Regions from separate parts of the Homo sapiens genome. Here all the other regions are linked to region 3. The links come from fine-mapping of genetic effects on gene expression. A gene starts in region 3. Each other region holds a variant in brackets. All regions are shown on one strand. Distances are from middle to middle.

Region 1 (9,992 bases), 23 kb after region 3:
GAGGGGTGAGATCCTGAGGGCCACCGCAGGGACTGCTGGGTCTATATACAATTTTAGGATGGGGATACTTATTTATGTTTGAAGTAGAAGAAAAGGAGCCCATGGAGAAAGAATGAAGATATTAGAGAGACAAAAGGCTCAAGATTAGATGGACAGATTAGCTACAGGGAAAAAGAGAAGGAAGAGGAATCCTTGCTTCAGCACCTTGAAGGAAGAACAAAGACACAGATGTAAACCTTCAGTAGACTTTGGGGGTGCTTTCAGAGAGTTAGAGAGTAGTGTACCCTCCAGTTTGGGGTAAGCAGGGCGTTCCTATTGACTGACTTGCTTTCTCTTTGAAGAGGGCACAGGGCAGGAGTTATCTGCTGAGGGTAAAGGGAAGGAAGGAGCATTCATTAGGGGGATAAGGAGAGGATTTTGAGCGTAAAAGAGAGAAAAGTGAAGGTCTACCTAGAATAGTCAGACAAGAGAAAGAAAGAAAGGTCATCCAAACTGGAAAATAAGTCAAATTATCCTTGTTTGCAGATGATATGATCTTTTATTTGGAAAAACCTAATGGCTCCACCAAAAAACTATTAGAACTGATAAACAAATTCAGTAAAGTTGCAAGATACAAAATCAACATACAGAAAATCAGTAGCATTTCTGTATGTCAGCAGCAGACAATGTGAAGAAGAAATCAAGAAAGTAATCCCATTTACGATAGTTTAAAATAAAATACCTAGGAATTAACCAAAGAAGTGAAAGATCTCTACAATGAAAACTATAAAACATCGATGAGAGAAATTGAAGTGGACTCCAAAAATTGGAATGATATTCCATGTTCATGGATTGGAAGAATCAGTATTGTTAAAATGCCCACACTGCCTAAAGCAGTCTACAGATTCAGTACAATTCCTATCAAAATACCAATGACATTCTTCATAGAAATAGAGAAAACAATCCTAAAATTTATATGGAACCACAAAAGACCCAGAATAGCCAAAGCTATTCTGAGCAAAACAAACAAAACTGGAGGAATCACATTACCTGACTTCAGATTATACTACAAAGCTATAGTAACCAAAAACAGCATGGTACTGGCATAAAAACAGACACATAGACCAATGGAACAGAATAGAGAACCCAGAAGCCATATATCTACAATGAACTCATTTTTGACAGATGCCAAGAACATACATTGGGGAAAGAACAGTCTCTTCAATAAATGGTTCTGGGAAGACTGGATATTCATATGCAGAAGAATGAAACTAGACTCCTATCTCACAAAAATCAAATCAAAATGGATTAAAGACTTAAATCTGGCCAGGCGCAGTGGCTCACACCTGTAATCCCAACACTTTGGGAGGCCAAGGCAGGTGGATCACGAGGTCAGGAGTTCAAGACCAGCCTGGCCAAGATGGTGAAACCCCATCTTTACTAAAAAACTACAAAAAAACTAGCCGGGTGCAGTGGCAGGTGCCTGTAATCTCAGCTACTCGGGAGGCTGAGGCAGGAGAATCGCTTGAACCCGGGCAGCAGAGGTTGCAGTGAGCCAAGATCGCGCCACTGCACTCCAGCCTGGCCGACAGAGTAAGACTCTGTCTCAAAAAAAAAAAAAAAAAAAAAAAAGACTTAAATCTAAGACCTCAAACTATGAAACTACTAAAAGAAAGCATTGGAGAAACGCTCCATGACACTGGACTGGGCAAAGATTTCTTTTCTGTGTCTAATCTAGCAGATTAACTCAATATCCTGCTCTATTTAATACTGTTAAGCAGAAGGAAATAACTAATTTCAATTTTAAACTCACAAAACAAAGGAAACAAAATCATCTCACTACAGGCCTTTGACAAAGAACATGAGTCATTTGCTATAGCTGCCAGGCATCAGTGTATGGCGAGGAACGGGGGCTTGAGGTTGCCCAGGCAAGGCCTCTGAGGTGGGGTATATTGGGGGTTGGGGGGGGATCTTGATAGCACTGAGTTGCTGGATCCTGTGCTGCCCTGCCTGGGTGGGGAGCAGGGTGAGGGAGGCCATTCCTCTTCTGTAGAAAATGCCAACCCCCAGTACAGGGACTCTGGCAGCTGAATTGGTGACTGTAAAGCCTGATCTATATGAAATCAAAGGCACATGTGGAAATCCACTCCCAGCAAAGGGGGAGTCCTTGGGGGAAGCCAGCTGGGTTTCTGTAGGATCCCCTCTGAAATGTCAGCATTTGAAAAACACAACCCAAAAGTAGAGGATCTACAGGGAACTTTATTCTCTCACTTCTGTCTTCATGGAGGGCACTGCCCCTTGGGAAGACCAGGTTGGCTTCTGGCACAGGTATCCCCCATCTTCTTGGGCACCTGTGGCATTGCCAGCAGGCCAGAGGGGGCAGCTGGCAGTGTTGGCTCTAGCCTGACCCAGGGGGCCCAGTTAGGATGCCCTCTACCCATGGCAGGGGTGATGGCTACTTCTCCATGGTTCATGCATGAAGCTTCCAGCCCTTTCCAGCTCAGGGAACACATGCAGAATGACAGTCACCCAGCAGACTGGAAACTGCCTCCTCTCCAAAAGTCTGGCTCCTGAACACCCTCCTCCCTGGGAAGGGCTTTAGCCCCTTTGAGATTGGGCAGGAACCAGAAGAACAGTTTCTCTGCTTTGCCATGTCTGCAACCTAGGGCTCACCCAGCCCCATCAAGTGCTGAGCTCCAGCACTGTCCACACAGTGGAAACCAAGTGAAATGACTTTGGCTTGTGGAGGGGGAAGAATGAAAAACAAAAACAAAAGCAAAATCACCTGCCCACAAGATAGAGCAGAAAAGTTCATCCACTATCTTTTTTTTTTTTTTTTTTTTTTTTTTTGAGACAGAGTCTCACTCTGTCACCTCGGGTGGAGTGCAGTGGCATGATCTTGGTTCATTGCAACCTCCGCCTCCCGGGTTCAAGCAATTCTCCTGCCTCAGCCTCCCGAGTAGCTGGGATTACAGGCACCTGCCACTACGCCCAGCTAATGTTTTGTATTTTAAGTAGAGACAGGGTTTTACCATGTTGGCCAGGCTGGTCTTGAACTCTTGACATCATGATTTGCCCGCCTCAGCCTCCCAAAGTGCTGGGATTACAGGCGTGAGCCACCACACCCGGCGACTTCATCCACTGTCTGTCCGCTTCCTGTGTAAGGCCGACCACCCAGCCCCCAAACAACCCTTAAAATGAGACCCAAACCAAAGACCTAACATATAAGCCTCAAATCAGTAAACCTCTCCTGAAACAGGCAGAGGAACTGCCTGCCCAGAAATACTCACAATAGGCTGTGCAGATTGTAAAGAGATCAACAGCTTCACCCACGCTCTGCATAAACTCTGGTACTGGCTGTGTTCTCCATAGAAGGTCTCGCTGTGTTGCCTGGGCTGGAGTGCAGTGGTGTGAACACAGCTCACTGCAGCCTTGATCTCTTGGGCTTAAGTGATTCTCCTGCCTCAGACTCCTGAGTAGCTGAGACCACAGGTGCATTTCACCACTCAGCTAATTTTTAGTTTTTTTGTAGAGATGAGGTCTCTACCAAGCTGGTCTCTAACTCCTGGGCTCAAGCGATCTTCCCATCTTGGCCTCCCAAAGTGCTGGGATTACACATGTGAACCACTATGCTTGGCTCAAAGATTTATTGATAATACCCTGCAAGCACAAGCGTGCAAAGCAAAAATGGACAAATAGGATCACATCAAGTTAAAAAGCTGCACAGCAAAGGAAACAATAAACAAAGTGAGGAAACAACCACAGAATGGGAGAAAATATTTGCAAACCACCCATCTGACAAGGGATTAATTACCAGAATATATAAGGAGCTCAAACAACTCTATAAGAAAAAAAAATCCAATAATCTGATTTTAAAATGGGATTTTTTTTATCTTAAAAAAGATCTCAATAGACATTTCTCAAAAGAAGGCATACATATGGCAAACAGGTATATGAAAAAGTGTTCAATATCATTGATCATCAGAGAAATGCAAATGAAAACTGCAATGAGGTATCATTTCACCCCAGTTAAAATGGTTTTTATCCAAAAGACAGGCAATAACATGCTGGTGAGGATGTGGAGAAAAGGTAACGTTGTGCACTCTTGGTAGAAATGTAAATTAGTACAACCACTATGAAGAACAGTTTGGAGGTTCCTCAAAAAACAAAATAGGCTGGGCACGGTGCCTCATACCTGTAATCCCAGCACTTTGGGAGGCCGAGGTGGGAGTTTGAGACCAGCCTGGCCAACATGGTGAAACCTTGTCTCTACTAAAAATACAAAAA[T/C]TAGCTGAGCGTGATGGCAGATGCCTGTAATCCCAGCTACTCGGGAGCCTGAGGCAGAGAATTGCTTGAATCTGGGAGGCAGAGATTGCAGTGAGCCGAGATAGTGTCACTGCACTCCAGCCTGGGTGACAGAGCAAGACTCCATCTCAAACAAAAAACAAAACAAAACAAAACTGAAAATAGAGCTACCATATGATCTAGCAATCCTCCCTCCTAGGTGTATACCCAAAAGAAAGGAAATCAGTATATGGAAGAGATATCTGCACTCCCATGTTTATTACAGCACTATTCACAATAGACAAGATCTGGAAGCAGCCTGAGTGTTCATTGACAGATGAATGGATAAAGAAAATGTGGTACATATATACAATGGAATACTATTCAGCCATAAAAAAGAATGAGATCCTGTCATTTGCAACAACATGGATGGAACTGGAGGACATTATGTTAAGTGAAATAAGCCAGGCACAGAAAGACAAACTTGGCATGTTATTTATTTGTGAGAGCTAAAAATTAAAACAATTGAACTAATGAAGATGGAGAGTGGAACGATGGTTACCAAAGGCTGGGAAGGGTAGCTGGGGGAGGTGGAAGGGGAGATGGTTAATGGGTACAAAAATAGAGTTAGAAAGAATGAATAAGATCTAGTACTTGATAGCACAGTAGACTGACTACAGTCAACAGTAATTTATTGTACATTTAAAAATAACTAAAAGAGTAAAATTGGATTGTTTGTAACACAAAAAATAGGATAAATGCCTGAGGTGGGTAGGCATGGTGACTCATGCCTGTAATCCCAGCACTTTGGGAGGCTGAGGTGGGTGGATCACTTGAGGCCAGGAGTTTGAGACCAGCCTGGCCAACATGGTGAAACCCCGTCTCTACTAAAAATACAAAAATTACCTGGGTGTGGTGGCCCATGCCTGTAATCCCAGCTGAGGAAGGCTGAGGCACAAGAATTGCTTGAACCCGGGAGGCGGAGGTTGCAGTGAGCCAAGATCGCACCTGCACTCTAGCCTGGGCGACAGAGCAAGGCTCTGTCTCAAAAAAACAAACAAACAAACAAAAAAAACTTGAAGTGGTGGATACCCCATTTACCATGATTTAATTGTTATACATTGTATTCCTGTATCAAAATATCTCATGTGCTCCATAAATATATACACCTTCTATGTACCCACAAAAATTTTTAAAAAAAAATTTTTTTTTATACAGTCTCACTCTGTAGCCCAGGCTGGAGTGCAGTGGCGTGATCTCTGCTCACTGCAACCTCTGCCTTCCAGGTCCCAGTTAAGCAATTCTCTTGCCTCCCAAGTAGCTGGGATTACAGGTGCCCACCACCATGCACAGCTAATTTTTGTAAAATTGAAAAGGTCCAGAATAGCCTCTGTGTGTACAGAAGGTAGGAGTCTCCATGGTGACAGCTGATCTTGGGCTGGTCAGTATGCTTAGAAATAAAAAAGCATTAAAAAGTATGAGAATAAAAAAGGCTTTGCCGGGCTGAGGAGGGGCAGCTCATAAGACATCCTGTAGGCCAAGGTAGAAGAAGCTATTAATAGAAGATCTTATAGTGCCCCCATGTGGGGGGTTGGGGAAGCCCAGTGTGGAGGACCCTAAGCAGAGGGAAGTTGTGACCCCAGATAAAGATGACTAATGACTAGGGACCTGGGCTGAGGACTGATGGAGATTGGATAAGGGGGAAATTGGCTGTGGAGTCATACCTTAGACCCTGGTTGGGTAGGAAGTCAGGATCGCCTAGATGGAGCTATGGAGAATAAACAGAGCAGAAGTGTAGTGGTCTGTGCCACCCTGACCGTCCTGTCTCAGTCTTTCCCATGTGCTTCTTAGGTGCTGGTACAGGGCTGCCTCTTGGACCCTTCCCAGCGGGAGGTGTTCCTGCAGCAGATATATGAGCAGCTCTGCCTCTTTGAGGATAAGGTGGCCACCATGCTGCAGCAGCAGTACGATCCCCAGAGCCAGGTATGTAAGAGAGAAAGTGGGCAGAGGCAACTTAGAAAGAGGAGCAGCTAAGGACAGAGGGCAGAGAGGAGGGATAGTCCAAATAGGGCAAAAAAGGGCTAAGAGCTGGGGCAAAATGAGACAAGGATAGGCATGCTCATGACACACTCCCTGTTGGAGCAGGACTCAGATATACTCCCCAAAACACAGATTCTTTCAGGGAAAAAATGTGAAATCCATTTGTTTGCATTTTTTTTTAGCCCCAGATCTCCTCCAGTGGATCTGAGAAGGTGATTATGCGTGGCTTTGACCTCTAGTTAGCATTTTGTACAATCAGGGATAAAGCTGCCTAGGCCCACTAGACTTCCCTGTCTCATCACTTTGGGTACCCCAGAAGTAGCCAGGCAAATGGCAGTCCTGTGTGCCTGATGACTGGTCATGTAATTTGATTGAGGTATAAAATATTTCATAACAGTGATGGAAAAATGTGGAAAGGGGCCCTTCTTGGCAAAAGATGGAGAAGCCCTACTTCAGTACAGTCTGAAGCTTCATCTGATGCCGAACTCCCTTCACCTCTGAGGTTCAGTATCTGAGCACACACAGGGAGGAAGCACAGTCAAGACTCAGCCGCATAGTAGGGGAATTGAGGTTCTCACAGGATTCGGCCTGTCTGGCCTGAGAAGTGCTGGGCTATAAATTCTGGCTTTGCTATGGATGGGGCAGCAATGCCATCTGCCCCATTCTGTCTTTTCTGTAACTTGGGGCAGGCAGAAGACCAGTCCCCAGACTCAGGGGACCTACTGGGCCGGAAGGTAGGCGTCTCCATGGTGACAGCTGATCTTGGGCTGGTCAGTATGATTCGTCAGGGCATCTTGGCACTGCAGTTACTACCCTCGAACTCTAGTGCAGGTCAGTAGAAGGAATATTGGTGGGACTGGGGAAGCAGGGATACAGGAAGGGTGGGGCTGACTGCTAACAAAGATAGCAGTTCCAGGGAATCAGTGGGCCCCAGGGAAGAGGATCTGTTTCCTTGTTTGCAAAATGTAAGTCTGTATTAGTGTGTATCAGGAACCCTCGACTCTGACAACCATCAGAGACCCTAGAAGGAGTAGAGCTCCAAGGATATCACTTAGGGGAGGTTATGATCTGGCATTCAAGAGGAAGAAGCAGGAGGGTAAGGGAGAAGGAAAGGTGTTTGAAGTTTATAAAACTTCACAGTTTATGAAACTGCCGACATTGGTGGGAAGACACTGAGCCGTTCAGGACCCTGTCAGTTGGGTGCCTCCCTGTGAGTTTGGTCTGGCCAGTGTCTCCAGGTCTGATCTGGTGTTTCCTGCTCCAGGGATTATCGTGATCACGGATGGGGTGACCAGTGTACCTGATGTTGCTGTCTGTGAGACACTGCTGAACCAGCTTCGCAGTGGCACTGTGGCTTGTTCCTTTGTCCAGGTGAGGACTTTTTAGGAAGGACGAGAGAGATATGGAATATCTCACACAAAGTTGGGATGGCTGATTACTTTCTTACAGGCAGTGATTTCCCAGATAAAGTCAATTACTTAGTTACATGGGGGGAAGGAGTCATATCTAGAAGGTAGGTAGCATCGTGGGAGAGGACTCTTATTTTTTTCCTCTTTCCTTAGGATTTTGGAAATAGCTGTTAAAGCAAAAAGAATGCAGAATTTGAAATCTGACAGTCATTTCCAGTCCCACCTCCCCTTGTAGATTAGTCATTATTGTTTTGAGTGCAAGGGTCAGAAAACCCCGCTCAAACTAGCTTAACCAAAGGGGGAAAAGGCATAGCCAGGGACTGCAGCTAATTTGGATTGATGGACTGTAGGGAAGGAGGTAAAAAGCTATGGGAAACAAGGCTGAAGGGGTAGGCACAGGCCAGAACATGAAAATCTGGTTCTGCTTTATTAATGAGGTTAAGCATGATTCTGTGGGTGATGCAGATAGATAGAAGGAAAGTCATTAGTTGGGTTTATGTTTTATAAAGGTCACTCTTGCTGCTGGGTGAAGGACGGGGGAAGTCGGGGAGGCTACTAATTGCAGTGAGAGAGGATCAGGGCTTAAATTAGGGGTAAGAGGATTGAGAAAAATGAAGAGGCAGAGTCAACCTGACTTCATGATTAGCAAGATGGGGGTAAGGAGATGAGAGAGAAGCGGGCTTAAAGTTGTCTCCAAGTTTTTGACTCCAGTGATGACTGGGTAGCAGCAGAGCAAAAGGAAGAGAAGCAGTTGTGGTAGAGTGAGGATAAGATGATGAATGCAAGTTTGTGTATGTTGTGTTCGAGGTGCCTGTGGTTCAACACAGACAGTTAAGAACATCACCTTTGGAGTTAGGCATGCTGGTCTAAATCCTGACTGCACTTACTAACTGTGTGACATTGGGCACATCACTTCACCTCTAGGTCAGATTCATTTGTAAATGGAGATTGTAAAAGTACTTATCTCACTGGGAGGTGAGATGCATTTAAAGTATGTAGCATTGTACGTAATCACTTAAGAAATGGCTGCTATTTGTAGCAGGTAGCAGTTGAATACACAGATCCTGATATTCAGGAGACAAACACTGCTTGAGAGGTAGAGATTTAAGATTTATCAGGGTACAGATGGTAATTGAGAACAGAAGAGGGTCCTGGAAGAACTTTGGGGAACACCAGTGTTCAAGGTCTTTCATAGGAAGAGGGCCCAGCAAGGAATGAAGAATCAGCCAGGAACCAGAAGATTGTGATGTCAGAGAAGGTCAGAATTTTTGGAAGAAAATTTTACTGGATCTTTCTGCTGCTTCTCACAATGGTAACTACACTGTGAGAAGTAGCAAAAAGATCAAGTAAAATGAGGAATGAAAAGTGCCCTTTGGATTTGGTGATTAGGAGGTCACGGGGATCTTTTTCAGAGCCATTTTAGTGAAGAGGTGGTGAGGGGATTGAAGAGTGGATAGAAGGAAGGAAATAGGGACAAGTGTTGACAAAAGAAATTTGGCTGTTGAGATAAACAGCAGAGCAAGAGAGAGAATGGTAACCAGAGGGAAGTACAGGGTAAAGGAGTGTTGTGTTTTGTTTTTAAAGCTAGAGACTTAAGCATGTTTCTAAGGATCTGTAGTGAAGAAGAGTTTGAAAATAAAGGAAGGAAAAAGGAGGCTGGTGGAGTAAAGTCCCTAAATTGACAGGAGGGCATTGTCTTAAGAAACAGATTGAGGGATTCTTTTGGAGCAGGGAAGTGTCGTTTCTTTCTTTGAAAATAGAAAGAAGTGAAGATGTCTGCGAAGGGCCTCCGATTTCTCTCTGAAGTAAAAGGTGAAGCTGAGTACTGTAAGGAAGAGGCCAGAGTTGGGAAGAAGGAACAGTATTAAGGACTGCCCTGAAGGACTAGCTGAGTTGGGTGTCATATGTTTTGATGTGGTGCCAACCTACACAACTGTCAGTTTTCTCTGGGCACCACTGGCCAAGAATAGAGGCTATGATCGTAGTTGGGGTTTCGAAGAAGCAGATGAGAGTGAAGAGGGCCAGGGATTTGAGAGCGATGCTTATGAAGTTGTCTGAATGTAGGGTCCAAGCTGGGTCGAGAAAGGAGGGTCAGGACAATGTGGATAGATTTGGAGAGAGCAGAGGTTCAAGGCCTGGCAGTCTCAGTGAGGTCAAAGAGCAGCAGCAGGAGGAGGGTGGGAGGAAGCTAAGGGAATAGTGTTGTATGTAATCAGTGGGTTATGGCAATTTGAAATTGCAAAGATGAATTTGTTCCACATGAAGCCAAGAGCCAGCGTG
Region 2 (9,992 bases), 76 kb before region 3:
AGAGGTCCGGGCTGGGCAGTGTCAAGGCTGGAGTACAGCTTAGACCCATCTGGAAAGGACATCCCGTGCCCCAGAAACTGGGGACACTCTCCAGCCCCGCCCTTCCTCCTGCCCAGCCATGCTGTCCCCCACCAACCGTCACACACAGACAAGTATACCTTTAACTCTGCTCTGGGATGCTGCCTCCCATCTCTGAGTCACCCCACAGACACTCAGTGCTAGCCCAGGGGAGCATATGGGGCTATGGAGCTCAGAGGGTGACCAGCTTGGCTTCCTAGAAGTGGTGCATGCCTAGAAATCTTCCAGGTAAATAAGGAGGGACCTCCCAGTGCCCAAGATTACTCAGACCAGAGCACCCCCACCTGCTCTAAGGCCTCCTTCGCCTTCTCCAGCTTCTCCAGCACCCTAAGTCTTAACCATTCACACCCCTGCCACCCCCTGACCCTGCTGTCCCTCTGCTCCTGCCACCCCATGTAAGCCCCCTCTCTCACCTTCTGCTTTCTCGTTGCCACACTCTGCCTCCCAGGTCCTCGCCATCTCCCTATCCCGTGACTATGCATGACTCTCTGCCATCAAGCCTCACCTTCCGCCTTTCTCTTCTCACTGTGCCCAGGCTTAGGAGCCAGACAACCTGGGCTTGAATCCTCTCTCCACAAATTCCTTGCCCCATCACCTTAAGGAAACTACTTAACCTCTCTTACTTTGTTTCTCTCTTTGTGAAATGGGGATAGCTAGCACTTGATGGGGTTGTTACAAAGATTAAATTTGATGATGTATTTAAGCATTTAGCACAGTGCCCGATACAGGGTGTGTGCTCAATGTATGTCGATAATTATTGTTATTATTTAAAATGTCACCTAGTCCCTAGATTTTGATAGTTCTCTGGCAGCTCTCACATATGATCTGCAGCCAGGACCCCTCTTCTGACTCCAGATCATTTGGTGGGGACTCCATGAAGTGGGGCATCTACTCTGGAAGTCTGGTTTTGAAGTTGGTGTGGAAAGTAGCTGCTGTATGATTCGGAGGCCCATTTTATATCCAGCCACTTCCTGGACATCTAATCCCCTGCGTGAGCCAAAGGCACCAAGGGCTTCTCTGCACCCAAAATGGACCTTCATCTCCCCGCAAATCAGCACTGCCCTCCTGACATGCTCATTGCTGCCTGACACTCCCTCAGCTTACAGCGCGGCATCCTTTTCCTCCCTCGCTCCCTCCCTCTTTCCTTCCTTCCTTTCCTCTCAAAAAGCCAATCTGGTAAACATTTGTAAGAGTCAAGGGAACCTGTTAAAAGCACTAATGCAATAATCTGGAGAGAAAAAGTTGAGGCCAGAATAGGAGCAGCGATCATGGGGTGAGGAAGTGGGGCAGGAACAAGAAGGCTGTTTTGGAGTAGAATGGATAGATCTGAGGCGGCCTGCGCAGACAGACCTAGTTCAACACATGGCTGTATCTCCTTCTAGTTGTGTGTCCTTAGGCAAGTTATTCGGTGTCTCTGAGTCTCAGTGTTTTCATAATGCAGGGTAATGTGCCCTGACAGAAAGGTGGCTGTGAGAATTAGAGGTCATGCTATGAAGCGTGTGGCGGGGAGCAGGTGCTTCAGTGCCAGTGCCATTTTTTTTTTTTAATAAGAGAGTGGTGAATGAGGGCAGGGGCAGAGAGCAGGATGATGCCCAGGTAGTCTCCCTGACCTGGGTTTCGGCCCCTTCTGTCTACCCCCACACTGCATGGGAAGAGTGCACCCCCAAACCATGTCTGGCCATGTCACTTCCTCATCTACCATCTTTTGGGACACCCTCATGCCTTTATTGCTTAATCCTTGTGCCCCAAGCTACCCAGGGGCCTGAACTCTGTCCTCCCTGGGCCCTGGCCACTATGGTCATCTGTTGAACTTGGTGTCCCTCAAGCCCAGAGGGTCCCCAGCTTGAAACAAAGATGCAGAAGTGGACTGGATAGGCTGTGTGCCCATGCCTTACCCTGAGTCTCCTGGCAGTGCCCCCCGTGCCCCTGGCTGCACCTCGGCTCCTGACCAAGCAGAGCCGCCAGCTTGTGGTCTCCCCGCTGGTCTCGTTCTCTGGGGATGGACCCATCTCCACTGTCCGCCTGCACTACCGGCCCCAGGACAGTACCATGGACTGGTCGACCATTGTGGGTGAGTAGGGAGAGAGCTGGGGCAGGACAGAGGTGTTGGGTAATAGTGAAGGGATACAGTGAGCAGGAGAGGGAGGGCAAATGGTGCGAGGGGGCTGAAGGGAGCATGGCAGCTTCTAGAAGAGGTGGGGGCTGAATAATGTGTGCTTTACACCCCACGCCCAGTGGACCCCAGTGAGAACGTGACGTTAATGAACCTGAGGCCAAAGACAGGATACAGTGTTCGTGTGCAGCTGAGCCGGCCAGGGGAAGGAGGAGAGGGGGCCTGGGGGCCTCCCACCCTCATGACCACAGACTGTCCTGGTGAGAGGCCAAGAGTCATCCCTTCCTGTCCCCCCAAGGGTTACTTTCCCGTCGACCCCAGGGACCCCTGCCTTTCCCACTGGAGGTTGTTCTTCCTTGTTCACTGGGGATCATTGTCCTGTCCAGCCCCAAGTACCTACTGGACAGTTCTGACCCCTGACCTCTGGCCCCAGAGCCTTTGTTGCAGCCGTGGTTGGAGGGCTGGCATGTGGAAGGCACTGACCGGCTGCGAGTGAGCTGGTCCTTGCCCTTGGTGCCCGGGCCACTGGTGGGCGACGGTTTCCTGCTGCGCCTGTGGGACGGGACACGGGGGCAGGAGCGGCGGGAGAACGTCTCATCCCCCCAGGCCCGCACTGCCCTCCTGACGGGACTCACGCCTGGCACCCACTACCAGCTGGATGTGCAGCTCTACCACTGCACCCTCCTGGGCCCGGCCTCGCCCCCTGCACACGTGCTTCTGCCCCCCAGTGGTATGTGCAAGGCGCAAGGATAGCTGGGGGTTGGGGGAGGACGTGGGACACAGGGACACATGAGACCTAGGAGACACGGGAGGCTGTAGGAGATTAATGGACATGGAGAGGACACAGGACACACATAGGGTATTAGGCAGACGTGACCCCAGCGGGGACATGGGACTTGGGGAAGATCCAGGGTACCAGGAGGACACAGATCACCAGGAGCATGTGGGGAGAGCATGGGGAGGTCAGGGTTCATGGCGAGAACCAGGGTCATGGGAGGGCATGAGACTTGCGGAACACAGGGCATGGGCGGATGTGGAGAGGACTTGGGATACAAGAAGTACAAGGAGAAGCAGAAGCTTGAGGGTGAAAGTGGCCTGGGGGAATGGAGAGGAATTCAGTCTGGTGGGGAGGAGGAAGTTGGCAGGGTGGCCCCTGTGCTTGGACCCACAGAGGAGGGAGCACAGCTAGAGCAGATGTGTCCAGCCCCACAGCTACATAGCCCGGTCCTATCTGAGCCTTGCCTTCCCCCACCATCTCCCCAGGGCCTCCAGCCCCCCGACACCTCCACGCCCAGGCCCTCTCAGACTCCGAGATCCAGCTGACATGGAAGCACCCGGAGGCTCTGCCTGGGCCAATATCCAAGTACGTTGTGGAGGTGCAGGTGGCTGGGGGTGCAGGAGACCCACTGTGGATAGACGTGGACAGGCCTGAGGAGACAAGCACCATCATCCGTGGCCTCAACGCCAGCACGCGCTACCTCTTCCGCATGCGGGCCAGCATTCAGGGGCTCGGGGACTGGAGCAACACAGTAGAAGAGTCCACCCTGGGCAACGGTGAGAGGGCAGGGCCCACAGGACCCCCCGGGCTCTGAGCGGGGAGAGCTCAGCACGCTCTCCTTCCACATCACCCCCTACTGTGGAGCTAGGGCATCCCAGGCCCCTCCTGACAAAGAGTCAGCCCCAGTCCTGGGGACTCAGCCTTCCATTCTCATGATCCACTGTCCCAGGGCTGGGAAAATCATGTCGCCCCTCTGACACCCCTCATCCCTTCCTTCATGTGGCCCAAGTGATTTCCTGACAGTCCTGGCACTGGGATCTTTCACCTCTCCCTCTGTGTAACCCCATGGTGGCCTCTGGGTTCCCTGACCCAGGTGTCCCCACAATCTGCCCCTCTCACTGTGTCCAGGGCTGCAGGCTGAGGGCCCAGTCCAAGAGAGCCGGGCAGCTGAAGAGGGCCTGGATCAGCAGCTGATCCTGGCGGTGGTGGGCTCCGTGTCTGCCACCTGCCTCACCATCCTGGCTGCCCTTTTAACCCTGGTGTGCATCCGCAGAAGCTGCCTGCATCGGAGACGCACCTTCACCTACCAGTCAGGCTCGGTCAGTGACCCGCCCCGCCCCTGGGTGCATGCTTGCAGCCCGTGTTTATGTTTCTACCTGTGTACACACAATACCTTGTACACCTTGTGTGTGTGTGTGTGTGTGTGTTTATGTTGCAGGTATAAGATTACACTCAACAATGTTCAAGGGTACAAAATATAATTTTCTTTATTTCTCTAAAACTGAATTCAGCTCATGAGCCCATTTATATTAGTGGTGAAATATTTAATATTCCCATTTCAAAAGAATTCCGTGATGACCATATTTCACAATGGACATTCCAGTTTTGGGCTCCGTCAATTGGAGATTTTCCTCTCCCCTCTTTTATTTCTCCCTAGCGGTTATCTAGGCCTAGATAGCAAGGTGATCAAATGGAAGGGCACTTGGGGTTCATGCTGGCTTTTGTCCTTGCAGGCCTTCCTGGGCTCGGGAGCCAGCCTCTGTCTGCACACATCTTTGGCTGATGTTCTTAGCCCTGCTGTGGCCACCTGCCAGTAGGCCAGTCATGCTGTGAGCTCCTCATCCTAACCTTCATTCTTGCAAATCCCAGGGCCTCCTTTTGGAGACTTAAGAAAGGGGCTGGGCACAGTGACTTGCACCTGTAATCCTAGCATTTTGGGAGGCTGAGGCGGGTGGATCGCCTGAGGTCAGGAGTTTGAGACCAGCCTGGCCAACATGGTGAAACCTTGTCTCTACTAAAAATACAAAAATTAGCCAGGCGTGGTGGTGCATGCCTGTAATCCCAGCTACTCGGGAGGCTGAGGCAGGAGAATTGCTTAAACCCGGGAGGCGGAGGTTGCAGTGAGCCGAGATGTTGCCACTGCACTCCAGCCTGGGCAATAGAGCAAGACCCTGTCTCAAAAAATTAAAAAAGAAAAAGAAACAGAACTAAAGAACTGTAGGGGCTTCCTTATACCTTATGGAAGGAGGCATATTCTGTGGCCCTCAGACCGCTGCCACAACCCCTTCCCACTTAGACAACTGTTTCTACCACTCCAGAATTGTGCTGGCCTGCTCCTTGAAAGAGGAAGCACAAACCTCCACTCCTCCTGGCTTCCCTGTAATCCTGCCCGAGTTGTCTGTCCTCCTGTAGCCCACACCCTTCTGTCCCTCAGGCCCCTGCTTAGAGGTGGGGTGTGGGAGGGCACCCACTGTCACTTTATCCTGTCACATTCTAGCCGCCCATCCGCAGGTCCTGTCTCCTCTGAGGGCTTCTTCATTGT[C/T]GTCACTTAGGATCTGAACTCTGTCCTTGGCCTTCCAGGCCTGGACTCTTGATATTTAGAGCTAAGCTTTGGCATTTCAAATAAAAAATAAAAAAAGAAAGAAAACCCTCTTCTCTCTCAAGGGCTGATCCTTGTGATAGAAAGCCTAGTGTCTCTGCTATGCCTTTGAAAAATCCATTCAGAGGCCGGGCGTGGTGGCTCATGCCTGTAATCCCAGCACTTTGGGAGGCTGAGGCGGGTGGATCATGAGGTCAGGAGTTCAAGACCAGCCTGCCCAGTTGGTGAAACCCCATCTCTACTAAAGCTACAAAAATTAGCCAGGCACAGTGGCAGGAGCCTGTAATCCCAGCTACTAGGGAGGCTGAGGCAGGAGAACTGCTTGAACCCGGATGGCAGAGGTTGCAGTGAGCCAATATCACGCCACTGCACTCCAGCCTGGATGACAGAGTGAGTGAGACTCCATCTCAAAAAAAAAAATCCATTCAGAGATTCAATTGGCTTCTTTGTTCCAAGCTGTGTTGGCTCTTCCTCTGAGGTCAGTGCACACAGAAAGCCCTCACTGCTGTGGTGGGGGAGGGTAATGGGTACAGATGTCGAGGGCAGGAGGTGGGAAAGCAGTCCTTAACATACATGGTGTCATACTCTATATCAAGATATATCCCCCTAGCCTGGGCAACATGGCAAAACCCCATCTCTACAATAAAAGAAAATATGAAAATTAGATGGGCGTGGAGGTGTGCACCTGTGGTCCCAACTACTCGGGAGGCTGAGGTGGGAGGATTGCCTGTGCCCAAAAGCTCGAGGTAACAATGAGCTGAGATCGTGCCATTGCCCTTCCGCCTGGGCAACAGAGCGAGACCTTGTCTCAAAACAAACAAAAAGATATATCCCTGGTACATGTGCCTGCATATGGATAGGAAACGTGTGTGCACAAATGTGTGTGCTCCATGTATGAGTGCACACGTGCATCCCCTGTGAGTGCCACATGTTTAAATGCGTGTGTCCCAGATGCACGTGTCCCTATGCCTGTGCACCTTCAGGCCTGCATGTGTGTATGGACCTATACATGATGCACCTACATATGGTGCTGCCCAAGAACATCACGTGCATTTGCTATGTGCCGTCAGCACCAGTGCTTCTTGCAAATCCCTGGGCCCCAGGTCCTCAGCCCTTGCCCATCAAGCTGGACTTCAGTGCACTTAGGAAGCCCCACCAGAAGGTCTGTCTTAACCCTGCTTCCAGTTCTCATATTGGCAGTTTCTTTGGTCCTGTTCACTTATTTCCTTTTCCCACCATCAGCCCCACCCAGATGGCCTCCTCCTACTGAGTTAGGAAATTGGACATTCCTCTTTGTTATAGTCTTGCTATTTTCAGGTCCTGGCCTGATTTTAGAGCTATGGAGAAAAGCCAAGTGTGTGGACAGGGTAATCTCTGCTTCTGCTACTGTGGAGAAAACCCCTCCACTGGCTCCCAGCAGCTCAGGGCTGAGCATGTAGTAGGTGCTCAATAAATGTCCCCTGGCCTACTCCCTAAGGCTGGAATCTTCTCCAGAGCTTCCCTGGTGACCCCCAACAACAACAACAACAAAAAGCCTGGTTGTAGGATTAGCACAGTCATAGGAAGCTCATTCCGATCCTTTTCTGTTTTAAATGTTAGAAATATCCTCCTTCCATTGACTCACATTGTGGCTTCTAGCAACTTTACCCACAAGCCCTGGTTCTGCCTTCCAGAGTCCCGTACACTAGATCCCCTGGCTGCAGCCTCTGCATTTCTCTCCTTGGACATCTGTCCACCCAGCAGCCTACCTGTGGCTCTGTTACCTATGATTCTGTCTCAGTTATGTCCTCTGTCTGCCTGTCTGTCCCTGGCTGACCACCAGGGTGCCCTCCATCTGGGTCTCTGCCCACTTGTCTGACACTGAAACCTCCTCGTGTGCCTGTCTGTGCCTCCTTCCGCCCCCTTTGACTCTTGCGTGGACCGTCTGCCCTCTTGTCTCATCCTGTGAAGGGCGAGGAGACCATCCTGCAGTTCAGCTCAGGGACCTTGACACTTACCCGGCGGCCAAAACTGCAGCCCGAGCCCCTGAGCTACCCAGTGCTAGAGTGGGAGGACATCACCTTTGAGGACCTCATCGGGGAGGGGAACTTCGGCCAGGTCATCCGGGCCATGATCAAGAAGGACGGGCTGAAGATGAACGCAGCCATCAAAATGCTGAAAGGTCCACTGGGGCGACCCCTGGCCCAGCCCTGATGCTCTCCTTTGTCCCACAAATCCCAGGCCCCACCTGGCTTCCTCCAGCAATTGACCCCAGCCCTTGCCAGCCCTTTCTCCAGAGTTATTTCTGGCAAAATAATATTGGATTCTTTACACAGAGTATGCCTCTGAAAATGACCATCGTGACTTTGCGGGAGAACTGGAAGTTCTGTGCAAATTGGGGCATCACCCCAACATCATCAACCTCCTGGGGGCCTGTAAGAACCGAGGTGAGCCCCCAGCTCATCACCTACCCCTTCTTCCAAACCCCCATCCTCAGCCATCACCTCCACCACATGAGTAGCTTGCCAGGGGCTGCTGGTGACCTGTGCACCACCCTTGATCCTCCTTCATCCCTGTCTGTTACCATCGGGTGCCTGCTCCCACCCTAGGTTGCCTGTGTCTAAATCACCACTGTCTGTCTCTTTGCCTCTCAGGTTACTTGTATATCGCTATTGAATATGCCCCCTACGGGAACCTGCTAGATTTTCTGCGGAAAAGCCGGGTCCTAGAGACTGACCCAGCTTTTGCTCGAGAGCATGGGACAGCCTCTACCCTTAGCTCCCGGCAGCTGCTGCGTTTCGCCAGTGATGCGGCCAATGGCATGCAGTACCTGAGTGAGAAGCAGGTGTGTGTGAGTGGGGGCGGGTGGAGGCCAGAGGGGGAAGCCACTGGGCTGGTGTCAGTGGAAGAAGTCAGCCGGCCCTGATTGTATCTGGGGATTGAGGTTCCTGGCCCAAGTGTGTGGGTGGGTGCAAGCACAGCGAGGAGGCAGGGCCAAGGGGCAGGTCTGGAGGAGGTGGGGACTTCCAGTATGGAGGGTGCGGGTGTTGAGTGAGCAGGTCTAGATGCTAGCCTGGAACTCAGGAGAGAGGCCCAGGCTGGAGACAGCATCTGTGTGTGAGCTGTCACCCCACAGATGGTGCCTAATGGCAATGGGCCTGGTGCGATCTGCCGGAGAGGGGGAAGGGCAGAGATCCAAGCCCAAGTCAACTCAGGCCTGAATGAGAGGACAGGGGGATGACTGTCCAGGGGAGTGTGAGTCTGAGGGAAGGCATTTTATCTTTTTTTTTTTTTGAGACTGAGTCTCACTTTTTTGCCCAGGCTGGAGTGCAGTGGTGCGATTTCAGCTCACTACAACCTCTGCCTCCTGGGTTCAAGCAATTCTCCTGCCTCAGCCTCCTGAGTAGCTGGGATTACAGGCATGTACCACCACACCCAGCTAATTTTTGTATTTTTAGTAGAGACGAGGTTTCACCATGCTGGCCAGGCTGGTCTCGAACTCCTGTCCTCGAGTGATCCACCCGCCTCAGCCTCCCAAAGTGCTGGGATTACAGGCATGAGCCACTGCACCTGGCCAGCATTTTAAAGATAGTAAAGTTTTGAGTATGTTTGAAAGCAGAGGGGCAGGGGAAGGGGCCAGTGCAGAGGGAGGGGCTGGTGGAGAGAGGTCTCTGGGGAAGCTGGAGGGCTAAGGGAGAGAAACTGGAACCCAGGGGATGGGAAGAGGGAGGGGGAGAAGCATGGAAAGAGGAGAAGGTGCAGTATGGCCACCACTGTCTCAGGAAAAGGGATCCAGCCTGAACTTGGTCAGGGCCCAGGAACGAGCGGGTGAGAGCCAACACTGATCTTTCTCAGATATGAGTCAGCTGACGAGATTGCAGCCAGGAGGGTAGGAGTATGGGGTATTGAAGGTAACAAGGGTACCCACGAAGACTGACTCCTTACTGGCCTGACTGTCCTGGGCTCCCTCATCCCCAGTCTCTCCTGACTTCTGACCCTGCCTACAGTTCATCCACAGGGACCTGGCTGCCCGGAATGTGCTGGTCGGAGAGAACCTAGCCTCCAAGATTGCAGACTTCGGCCTTTCTCGGGGAGAGGAGGTTTATGTGAAGAAGACGATGGTGAGTCTCATTCAACCCTCACCCTTAGGGCTTGTGCCTGGCCCTGCCCCACAGGAGCCTCAAACAGGCCCTTCCTCCACACTCAGCCCCTCAAACCCATTCTCTCCTAGGGGCGTCTCCCTGTGCGCTGGATGGCCATTGAGTCCCTGAACTACAGTGTCTATACCACCAAGAGTGATGTGTGAGTGTGAGATGAGAGGGCACAGGAGGGCTTGGCCCCCAAGAATCACCCAGGCCTGACCTAGACATATCTCAGAAATGTCATAGGTGGTCTAAGGCATGACCTGGGCTGTGTTCCAGGTGTGACACAGGTGTGTCTTGGGT
Region 3 (9,992 bases):
GCCTGCATCTAGACTGTTCTAAAAATGAGTAGGAGAGAAGGCAGGAAGCCAAGAGCAAGAGAGGCAGGATACAGAGAAAAGAATACATGTAGGACTGGAAAACTGGCCTGCGTGTCAATTCCTGATGCACCTACCAAATGGTCTTAAGATCTGACTGCTGATTTCTCTACCTAACAAGAGACACTGACAACATATCTAATACCAGAATAAATGGGATAGAAGGATAGTTGACACAGAGATGTGAGATGCGGATGAGAAATTGGAGCAGTTTCTGTTACTCAAAGTTCTTCCTCACTCTCTGGTGCCTGTTGCAGAGTCTCAGATGAGATTTTTTTACTTCTGAAAATTATTTCCTGGGTCACAGTGAAAAGGAGAAATAGAGAAAACCTCTAGGTCTAGAGATGCTGGAGGCCCAGATAATCTAGCTTATTCCCTCCCACTCCTGCTCAAAGTCAGCTTCATTTCAACCCCTGCCACCTTACCTGGTTGACCTGCCTGAGCCATTTGTACCCCACTGAGCATTGGCTGCTGCTGGCTTGGAGCTCCTGCCATCTGCACCTGCTGTAATCCTGAGGTTCCTGCAAGGATCGTCCCAGCTCCTGGCTGGCCTGCCTGGCCAGGACCACTGCTGCCTGAAGGTCTCCAATTAGATAGTCCTTTCCCAAAGGCAACAGCTGCCACCAAGGCATTAGTGTCTGTAGGGTTAAAGGTCTGCTTGTTCGGCCGGAGACCTGAAGAAAAAGTAATGGGGATCCTGAAGTATGCTTCTGATGCAGGACTGAACGTGGCAGCTGGAAGACCAGTATGAGTGCCAGGGTTTGGAGTTCTGAATTCAGCAACATCTAGACTCCCTCACAGCCCAGAAAAAGAGCCAGAGGACCCCCAAGCCTATCTCAGAATTCTCTCTTCTTACTTTGCCCATTTCCTCCACTGCTTCAGTGCTGGCCTTAAATACAAAAGGCTAACAGAATGGATACAAACCCCAAAGCAGTTCACCCTTGTGTCCTAACTTCACTACTTCCAAAACAACCATTCCCATTCCAGTGATCTTATATACCTCTCCTTCTCTGTTTAGCCACCAGTCCCATCATACCTCCACTCTCTGATTCTCGCTCCTCTTTGCTGATTTTCTCCAGAAGGTTTGAACACATTTTATTCAAGCTCTGGATCTGCTTCTGTAACACACAAATTTGTGCAGAGATTAGGGTAACTAGGAAACGATATGGAGAAATTTATTCCTTGGGTTCTGCCAGAAGCAACTTAGGCGCAACCAACTATGTATCCCTACTAGACAGGAATGGTAATGCCTAGCTTCTCATGATGGGATGGGGATGGGGCAGCAAGGCAGTGACTCAGTCCAACCTGGGCTGCATCTGCACCAATGCGGGCAGCATCTGTCGTCAGTTGCTTCTCCTGTTCTTCCACTTCAGGGTCAGGCTTGGTTCTCAGATGGTCAGGGACTACCTCATGGCTGAAAACAGGCACCCGTCCTTCAGTCTGCCGCTGTAACACACAGATTTTATTGATCCTACTCTGTACTCCAAGAAGATTCTATCTGGCCTGACATAAAGTCCCATCCACAGGCAAACAGTGCATTTTCAAGGAAAATACAACCTGAGACATAATATCTAGTTTGCTAGGACACACTCTCCTTTACTCCATCCTTCATTTTTTGTGTCTTCTCACATCCCTATCTCTACCAGACCTAGGGGCAAATTAAACTATCACTGTCTGCCACGCTTCAAAGACTGGAATAGACAAAGTCACAAAAGGGCAAACTTTGTGGCTTGAGACAGATGTTGGAGAAGAAAGGTATCAGCCTTGGTGACATACCCCTCAGGTTATTACAGCACTATTTGGGAGTGGCTCTCCCGCCTTCAGAAGAACAAAAAGCAAGGCCTCCAAAATTATTTCTAGGCTCTCAGCTAATAACTTAATTTCCCTAAATACTAAAGAAGCCTAAAAAACCCCTTAATTTCCCAAGTTGTATTCTTTTTCTCCTCTTACCATGAGATCTTCATCTCGGTCTGGAGACAACACCAGAGGAATGATGACCTGGTTACGGAACAGCGGTGTTTTTTCATGCTTCAAGACCTTGTTCAGAGTGTTCAGCTGTCCAGAAAGCAAGGCAAAGCTGTCCAGGACAGATGGCCTGGTGGTGGTAACAAGGTGTAAGAATGTTGTACCCCTTCCCTGGGTGGTTCTTAGTAAAATAGTCCTAGTTCCTTCAGGCTAGGAACACTTGGATTCACCTCCAAAAGTCTCATAGCCCTATGACTAGCCTAAGTGGGAACAGACTAACAGGGATGACAGGGCTATGAAAGAGGGACATAGTTTCAGTTTATGAAACAGACGTAGAAAAAACCCAGTTCATTGTTTGAATGGGGTGAGGAACAGTGGCAAAATAGGAACCAGGGCTACACTGTTATAACTAAAACTTCAGAAACCGGGTAAAAGCCTCCTTTCCAGCCTGGAAATAAGATCCACACTTCAGAGTAGGTTGGCTCTAAAAGACTCAGCCACATCTGTGGCAAGAGATCCAGCACGAATAGAGCTGTAGTGGGAGGACCTCCTCACCAGAGAAGTCAAAGGGTAAGAATTGAAAGCTAGAAAGAACTTGGGTTAGGAAACTGAGCATTTCTCTACTTCCTTGCCATGGAATCCACTTGCTAAATGTTAGGAAACCCAGCTCTTTCCAAATCAAAAGATGTTTGCAAACTGATAAATGGTTACATCATTAGAAATGTCCTATTCATCAGGAGGCTAGGCCCCCCCACCCATAAGCCCTTCCTAGCTTGCCCTGGTAACTCTTACCAGGTCAGCCGGCCATACTCGTTCTCCAACTTGCAAATGAAACTCCCCAGAGAGTTCTTCAGATCAGCCACTTGACTCAGCAGTGCATCTAATGATGCCTCAAGCTGCTTCTCCTCTCTCTGCACCAATAGGAACAGGTTGGTCACCCAGATAAACGAGTATGACACATAGAAAGGAGGGCTGGAAAGCCAAGGAGATGGTGTGCAACACCAGTCAGGTAACACAGGATCTCATTGGCATAGGATAGCCAGGTTGTTTTCTATCTTTGGTATTTGGGTTATAGACAGCATCAACCCTGAGACCTTCCAACCTGTTTGCCTGACCCCAAGTCCTTCCACCAACTGATTCCTTTTCCCCATCACCTCCTAATCTATGCCTGGTTTTTCTCTGTGTTAGGTACACCCTACACTCCCTCACTGAGACATTTTCGACAGACCTAATGCCAGGAGATCATTCTCTCATGTGCACCTCTGTAGCACATGCACTCCAGCTTCCTCCATCCTAGCATCTGTGAGCCTGGCTGTCTTGTCAGTCTCTGGGAAATCTGCCTACTCATGAAGACTTCTCTGAACACCAGTCCTGCTCTCCCCTTTCCCTCCCCCAACCAACGACTCCAGCTTTCCATCTGCTCTCATCATTTTGTTTCAACCTTCTCCTTGCTGAATTAATATGCAATCATCTATCTCTGTGTCAATATTCCCGTGCCTCTTTCACAAGCTCAGTCAACCCATTAACATTTATTGAGACTACCAGCTGCAAGAAACTAAGTGACAAATGAAAAACAAAAACCACACATGCTTCTAAGCACTGGACAAACAAATTAAAATGCTGGGGGTCTGCAAAGCATTTCCTTCCCATCGGTGGTCTCCTGTTTTACTCCATTTCTTCACCCTTAACAACTATAGGGCACAGGCTGGGAAGAGGGATGCAAAACTGTCTTGCAAACCTGCCTGACAGAAACTTGATCCCGGGTTCCACCATGGCCTCTGATTATAAGCTGCTTAGCTTTCAGCCATCGCGGCCCACAATTCCCTCACTGCTTGGGCTTCTTTCCAATTAGATCCCCTGCTATATCGGCAACCAACAGCCTCCATCCAGCAGCTTAGGACAGGGCCTGAGCCAACCCACCACCTTCTTGAGCCGTCTTCCTTGGACTGCATCTCAGCCTCCCCGTATTACAACCTAATCCTTTCCCACGCCAAGCAAACAGGTGCTGCCTCCTCCCTCCGGATTTAGCCCGACTGTCTCCTGTCAGGCAAGCTCCACCCCCACCTCTAATCGCCGCCGCTCCCGCTCCAATTAGCCTCGCCCCCCAGCCCACATTCCCTTATCAGCCGTGGGTTCTGCCCTCTCTTCTCAGTCCCAACTCTTCATTCTCCTTAGCCAGCCCACTCTCGGTCCCTGTACCCGAAGCTTGCCAGCCGCTAGTACGCCCAACGCAACTCTCACCTGCATTGCGGCGGCCGAGGCGGCTGCCACGATTTCACTTCCGGTTTTCCAGTCAGCAAACGCCTACGAGAAGGCTTCGTCCACCAATCAGAAAACTGGAACTCGGCCCTCCCACCAACTTCCGGTTCCTGCTGGGTGCCGAGGTAGCGAGGTCAGGGGTCAAGAGTGGAACACCCTCACTGGCCCGGGCCGGCGCGGGAGGGCTGTGTGATGGCCTCGGAGCGCCCGGAGCCGGAGGTGAGGGGCGGGCGGGCGCAGCACTGGGCCCCGAGATCCGAGGGGGAGGGTCCGGCGGGCAGGCGTGGCGTTGGCCTCCTCTAGGTCTGGGGGTGGCCGGGCTGCGTAGCCTCGGCAGGGACCAGCCCAGCCCGGAAGGCCCGACTATGGTACCCCTGCGGACTGTGTATGGGACGCGGTCCGCAGTTTCCTCGGGGAGCTAAAGGAGTAACTGTTCGCTTTGTTTTGTTTACTGACATGTCACCCGCGTCGTCGTCTCTAAGACTTATAGCGGTGTTAACAAAACTTGTATTTTGACTTTCTGTTGCAGTTTCAATGGGCAACACGGCAGTAGATTTACTTTGCTGGTTTTTGCATTTCTTTAGGCATTGGAATACCATAAACAGCATGAATTTATTTAGTTCTAGGGCTCATGCTTTTAGAAAAGCAGCTTTAATTTCATGAAAAAAACATTTGAGTCGGACTGAGACCTCGTTCCAATATTGGCGCTGTCATGTAGCTAATCTGTGCAACCTCAGGCGAGTCTTCCCGGATCCTGTTTCCTTCTTTATAAAATATCTGTCTTATAGTGTGTTGTGAGAATCACATGTAATAAACCAGAAAGGTGATATGATATATTCGTTAAATGCTAAGGAACATGCAAGGAACCTTATATATGTTGTGTCATTCAGACTTGTGCAAGGAAGGTGGCATTCTCACAGAGGAGAAAACTGAAAAATGAGAAAGATTTAGTACCTTACTCAAATGCCACTCATCCAGGAACTAGCAGTTTGGAGTTAGAAGATCTGAGCTTAAAATCTCAGATTCGGATAAAACACCACCACCAGGAAAGGTGCCAACATATCAGTAGGTGGGAAGGGTGAGAGATGTGTATAATGATAGAAATAGTATTCATTACTGCATACATACTGCATGCTCAGTACCATTCTAAGCTCTTTACCAATATCAGTTAATCCTCAGCCCTATGAAGTGGACACTGTATCATCTCCTTTTTTTAGTTTAGGAACTGAGGCACAGAGATATTAAGAGTAACAAAGTAAGCCGGGCGCAGTGGCTTACACCTGTAATCCCAACACTGGGAGGCCGAGGTGGGCAGATCACCTGAGGTGAGGAGTTCGAGACCAGCCTGACCAACATGGAGAAAGCCTGTCTGTACTGAAAATGCAAAATTAGCCAAGCATGGTGGCGCAGGCCTGTAATCTCAGCTACTCGGGAGGCTGAGGCAGGAGAATCGCTTGAACCCGGGAGGTGGAGGTTGCGATGAGCTGAGATCATGCCATTGCACTTCAGCCTGGGCAACAAGAGTGAAACTCCGTCTCAAAAAAAAAAAAAAGTAACAAAGTTACACAGCTATTAAGTATTAGAGTCAGGACTCCAAAACAGATGGCCAGGCTCCAGTCCTTGTGTTCTTAACCATATTGTTCATGGTATAAGTAATAAAGTAGCCACAGAATGGTAAATCTCCAGTTCACTGGGATTTGGTGTGGTAAGACCCAACATTGAATATGGTGGTAGGAAACTATGCCTTATTTAAAATAGTCATGTTCACAGAGGTGGTAGAATAGCTCATGCATCAGAAATATCAATCAAGATCAATCAGAAATATTAACACAAGAAAAACTATGAAACAGTTTAGAGGATGTTTCATTATAGATTAAAGTGAAAGGAGGTGGAGGGATGTTGTGGGGAAATGCAACATACCTTTTAGGCAGATAGTCTAGGACAACACCGTCCTGTAGAAATCTAAAGCAAGCCACATGTGTAATATTAAATTTTCTGATAGCCACATAAAAAAATGAAACAAGGCCGGGCGCGGTGGCTCACGCCTGTAATCCCAGCACTTTGGGAGGCCGAGGCGGGCGGATCACGAGGTCAGGAGATCGAGACCATCCTGGCTAAAACGGTGAAACCCTGTCTCTACTAAAAAAAATACAAAAAATTAGCTGGGCGTGGTGGCGGGCGCCTGTAGTCCCAGCTACTCGGGAGGCTGAGGCAGGAGAATGGCGTGAACCCGGGAGGCGGAGCTTGCAGTGAGCTGAGATTGTGCCACTGCAGTCCAGCCTGGGCGACAGAGCGAGACTCCGTCTCAAAAAAAAAAAAAAAAAAAAAAAAAAAAAAAAAAAAAAAAAAAATGAAACAAATGAAATAAAATGTAATTATATATTTAACCCAAAACTCCCAAAATTTTCAAAATGTAATAAAATACAAAACATCGTGAGATATTTAACATTTTTTTTGGTACCAAGTCTTTAAAATCTAGTGTTGTATTTTACACTGATAGCACATCCCATCTTGGTCTAGCAACATTGTAAGTGCTCAGTAGCCCCATATAGTAGTCTTTACCATATAGAGCAGTACAGATCTAAAGTAATTTCAAGTCAAGACACACAATCCTGGGAGTCTCAGCCAAAAGTTAAGCTTTTTTTTTTTTTTTTTTGAGACGAAGTCTCGCTCTGTCGCCCAGGCTGGAGTGCAGTGGTGCGATCTTGGCTCACTGCAACCTCCGCCTCCCGGGTTCACGCCATTCTCCTGCCTCAGCCTCCCAAGTAGCTGGGACTACAGGCGCCTGCTACCATGCCCTGCTAACTTTTTGTGTTTTTAGTAAAGACGGGGTTTCACCGTGTTAGCCAGATAGTCTCAATCTCCTGTCCTCGTGATCCGCCTGCCTCGGCTTCCCAAAGTGCTGGGATTACAGGCGTGAGCCACCGTGCCCAGCCTAAGTTAAGCATTTTTTAACTCCCTGATTTGCATTTCTGAAAATTTTATCAGAAGGTAAAGAGATTGAAGAGTTCTGCCCCTGGGTGTAATAAAGTTATTGACTTTTAGAGGCTGTTAGGATCCCAAGAGAGAAAGATTGGGTATAGTCAGATTTAGGAAATCATTCATTCATCACACACTTGAAATATTTTACGAGTGCTGGTAGGAGTCAGAATTGTGCTAAGTATCAGGGTGGATACAGAGCCGTGTAAGACAGACATGCTCTCTATCTTTATGGAGTAAACAAGGATTGAATTAGGATAATAAGTGCTGTAAAGGAGTGAATTAGGGTGTTTAACAGTGGTTCTCAACCTACCTTGTTAAGAAATGGGGAGGCAAGGGGTTGTGAATAGGAAGACTCAGAAGAATGACATTTAAGCTGAAGCCTGAAGAATAGGTAGAAGTTTTCTAAAAGAAGAGGCAGAGAGCATTGCAGGCAAAGGGAATAGTGAAGATCTTCAGGTGAGAAGGAGCCCAGTGGAGCCTTCAGAGAACTAAGAGGAAGCAACTCCTTGTGTGGATGCAGTTTGACAATGAGAATAGCTAGCACTTACTGAATGCTTACTGAGTATCATCTGATACTCAAAAATTATCTGAAAATAAGCACTTTTATTATCTGTGTTTCACAGATGAGCTAACTGAGGCATAGAGAGTGTAAGTCTCTGCCAAAACTATATAGTTAATAATCAGCAGAGCAAGCATTTGATCCTAAGTGCTCTAACACTGGAATACATGCTTTTAACTGCGTGGGGATTGGTGAGAGATAAGGCTGGAGAAGATGCAGCTTGAGGCCATGCTAGAGGCTCAGGACTTTGATGTATAGTGGTAAGAAGATTTTAGCCAGTTCAAGAGGGGAAATAATCCACATTATTTTGTGGGAATGTGTTAACAAAAGACAGCACAAGGGTTAGAAAAGGCTGAACAAATCAGACCTTAATCACAAAGGGACAGGCACAAAAAGACAAAGCAACAAATTAATGAGATGGACCATGCTTCATTCTTCCTGGTATACATGGTATGCAGCACAGTGCCTGGTAATGTTTTATTCATCTTGGTATAAATGGTATGTAGACCTCAATAAATATTCCAAAGAATGATAGCCTTCCTCTCCTGTTTAATTGCAACGACATCCCTATGAAGATATTCTTATCCACATACTATCAATAAAGAAACCGAGGCTTGGAAAAATTAAGTAACTTGTCCAAGGTCACCTATATAGCAAATGATAGAATCAGATTTGAATCCAGGTCCCTGACCCCGAAACTCTACTTTGTCTTCCTTGCCAGACTACTCTGAGAGTAATGAACTTCAGACTCAAGGAGGATTCATATGAGGACTTGAAGCTCCATGTGAGTGTGGATGCTCTGAGAACTAATTCAGGGATTCTCAAATGTTAATGTGGAAGAATCACTTGGAGACCTTGTTAGAATGTAGATTCTGGAGCCCATCAACTCTTTTTTTTTTTTTTTTTTTTGAGATGGAGTCTTGCTCTGTCGCCCAGGCTGGAGTGCAGTGGCGTGATCTTGGCTCACTGCAACCTCCACCTCTCAGGTTCAAGCAATTCTTGTGCCTCAGCCTCCTGAGTAGCTGGGACTACAGGTGTGAGCCACAGCACCCAGTCTGGAGCCCATCAACTCTTAATTCAGTTGGTCTGGGGTGGTGCCTGGGACTCAACGCTGTATTTTCATAAGCACTTCAGGTGATTTTTCATGCAGCTGGTCCTTGGATCCCACTTTGAAAAACACCATTCTAGCTGCTTAAATTATTAAGTCTTCTAGTTATGATAAATTACATCTTGAAAGTGAAGAGAACTTAGAAATGATGTTTTGAAAATATAGTTGTTGGGCTGGGCGCGGTGGCTCATGCCTGTAATCCCAACACTTTGGGAGGCTGAGGCGGGTGGATCACCTGATGTCGGGAGTTTGAGACCAGCCTCACCAGCATGGAGAAACCTCGTCTCTACCAAAAATACAAAATTAGCCGGGCGTGGTGGCGCATGCCTGTAATCCCAGCTACTCGGAAGGCTGAGGCAGGAGAATTGCTTTAAATCCAGGAGGTGGAGGTTGCGGTGAGCCGAGATGGTGCCATTGCACTGTAGCCTGGGCAACGAGAGCGAAACTCCATCTCAAAAAAAAAAAAAAGAAAAGAAAAAGAAAATATAGTTGTTGACTTTGAAGGATCATATGTAAAGGGGGATGTTGCAAGAAGACTAGGCAAATGTTCAGCAAATGTTCTTGATTTCAGGAAGGTGGATTCTGTAAGAACTGATTGATGAGCTAGACTTCATTGTGCCTTTGGAGAGTCAGTCCATCATTCAAAATAACCTTCAAGGAAAGGTGGGAAAAAATGGAAGCTGTACAGTAGTAAAATTTAGTGGCCTACTAACTGGTAATTGGAAGAAAGCTTTCTAATAGTCTGTGCCCTCTGTCTCGTTTACCCCCATTCTCTCCTCACTTAACAAACCTTGCTCAACCTTCAGCATCACTTTCTCTTAAGGTATTAGCCTGAACAGGTTACTTTGTTACTTGCTTGCTTTTTTGGGAGGAGGGGGAGGTCAGGGAGTGGGGCAGGGTCTTGCTCTGTCATCCAGGCTGGAGTGCAGTGGTATGATCATGGCTCACTGAAGCCTCAACCTCCCTGGGCTCAGGCGACCCTCCCACCTTAGTCTCCTGAGTAGCTGGGACTACAGCCACATGACACTACACCCAGCTAATTTTCATAATTTTTTGTAGAGA

Alleles and levels. Positions count from the first base shown, and alleles are read on the strand shown. Sizes are in standard deviations (SD) of each study's normalised expression. Not every link is listed here.
For the expression in esophagus muscle of the gene that starts at base 4,404 in region 3, T is the low allele of the variant in region 2 and C is the other (moderate effect, 0.47 SD a copy in GTEx).

What was found. PIP is the estimated chance that this variant, and not a neighbour inherited with it, causes the effect. A credible set is the group of variants that fine-mapping cannot tell apart.
Region 1: its variant is the best candidate, but not a certain one, in a credible set for the expression of SZT2 in whole blood (TOPMed, PIP 0.67).
Region 2: its variant is the best candidate, but not a certain one, in a credible set for the expression of SZT2 in esophagus muscle (GTEx, PIP 0.62).

The regions. Positions count from the first base shown.
Region 1 is chr1:43,408,968-43,418,959 of GRCh38, forward strand. It overlaps SZT2 (SZT2 subunit of KICSTOR complex), which reads left to right. Exons shown (of 72, transcript NM_001365999.1): 5 at 6,115-6,246; 6 at 6,993-7,134; 7 at 7,568-7,674. Among named protein-coding and RNA genes, the nearest start is that of SZT2, 24 kb to the left of the region's middle. The variant T/C (reference allele first, on the strand shown) is at 4,267.
Region 2 is chr1:43,309,681-43,319,672 of GRCh38, forward strand. It overlaps TIE1 (tyrosine kinase with immunoglobulin like and EGF like domains 1), which reads left to right. Exons shown (of 23, transcript NM_005424.5): 10 at 1,991-2,149; 11 at 2,314-2,451; 12 at 2,625-2,921; 13 at 3,455-3,745; 14 at 4,098-4,288; 15 at 7,519-7,729; 16 at 7,884-7,994; 17 at 8,202-8,392; 18 at 9,555-9,668; 19 at 9,779-9,849. Among named protein-coding and RNA genes, the nearest start is that of TIE1, 14 kb to the left of the region's middle. The variant C/T (reference allele first, on the strand shown) is at 5,512.
Region 3 is chr1:43,385,496-43,395,487 of GRCh38, forward strand. SZT2 (SZT2 subunit of KICSTOR complex) reads left to right here and starts at 4,404. Exons shown (of 72, transcript NM_001365999.1): 1 at 4,404-4,500. The coding sequence starts at 4,474. It overlaps MED8 (mediator complex subunit 8), which reads right to left and starts at 4,305. Exons shown (of 7, transcript NM_201542.5): 1 at 4,264-4,305; 2 at 2,815-2,933; 3 at 2,008-2,152; 4 at 1,363-1,503; 5 at 1,094-1,175; 6 at 483-731. The coding sequence starts at 4,269. MED8-AS1 (MED8 antisense RNA 1) reads left to right here. Exons shown (of 2, transcript XR_001738027.1): 2 at 1-231. RefSeq lists an enhancer at 2,815-2,954 and a silencer at 4,395-4,724.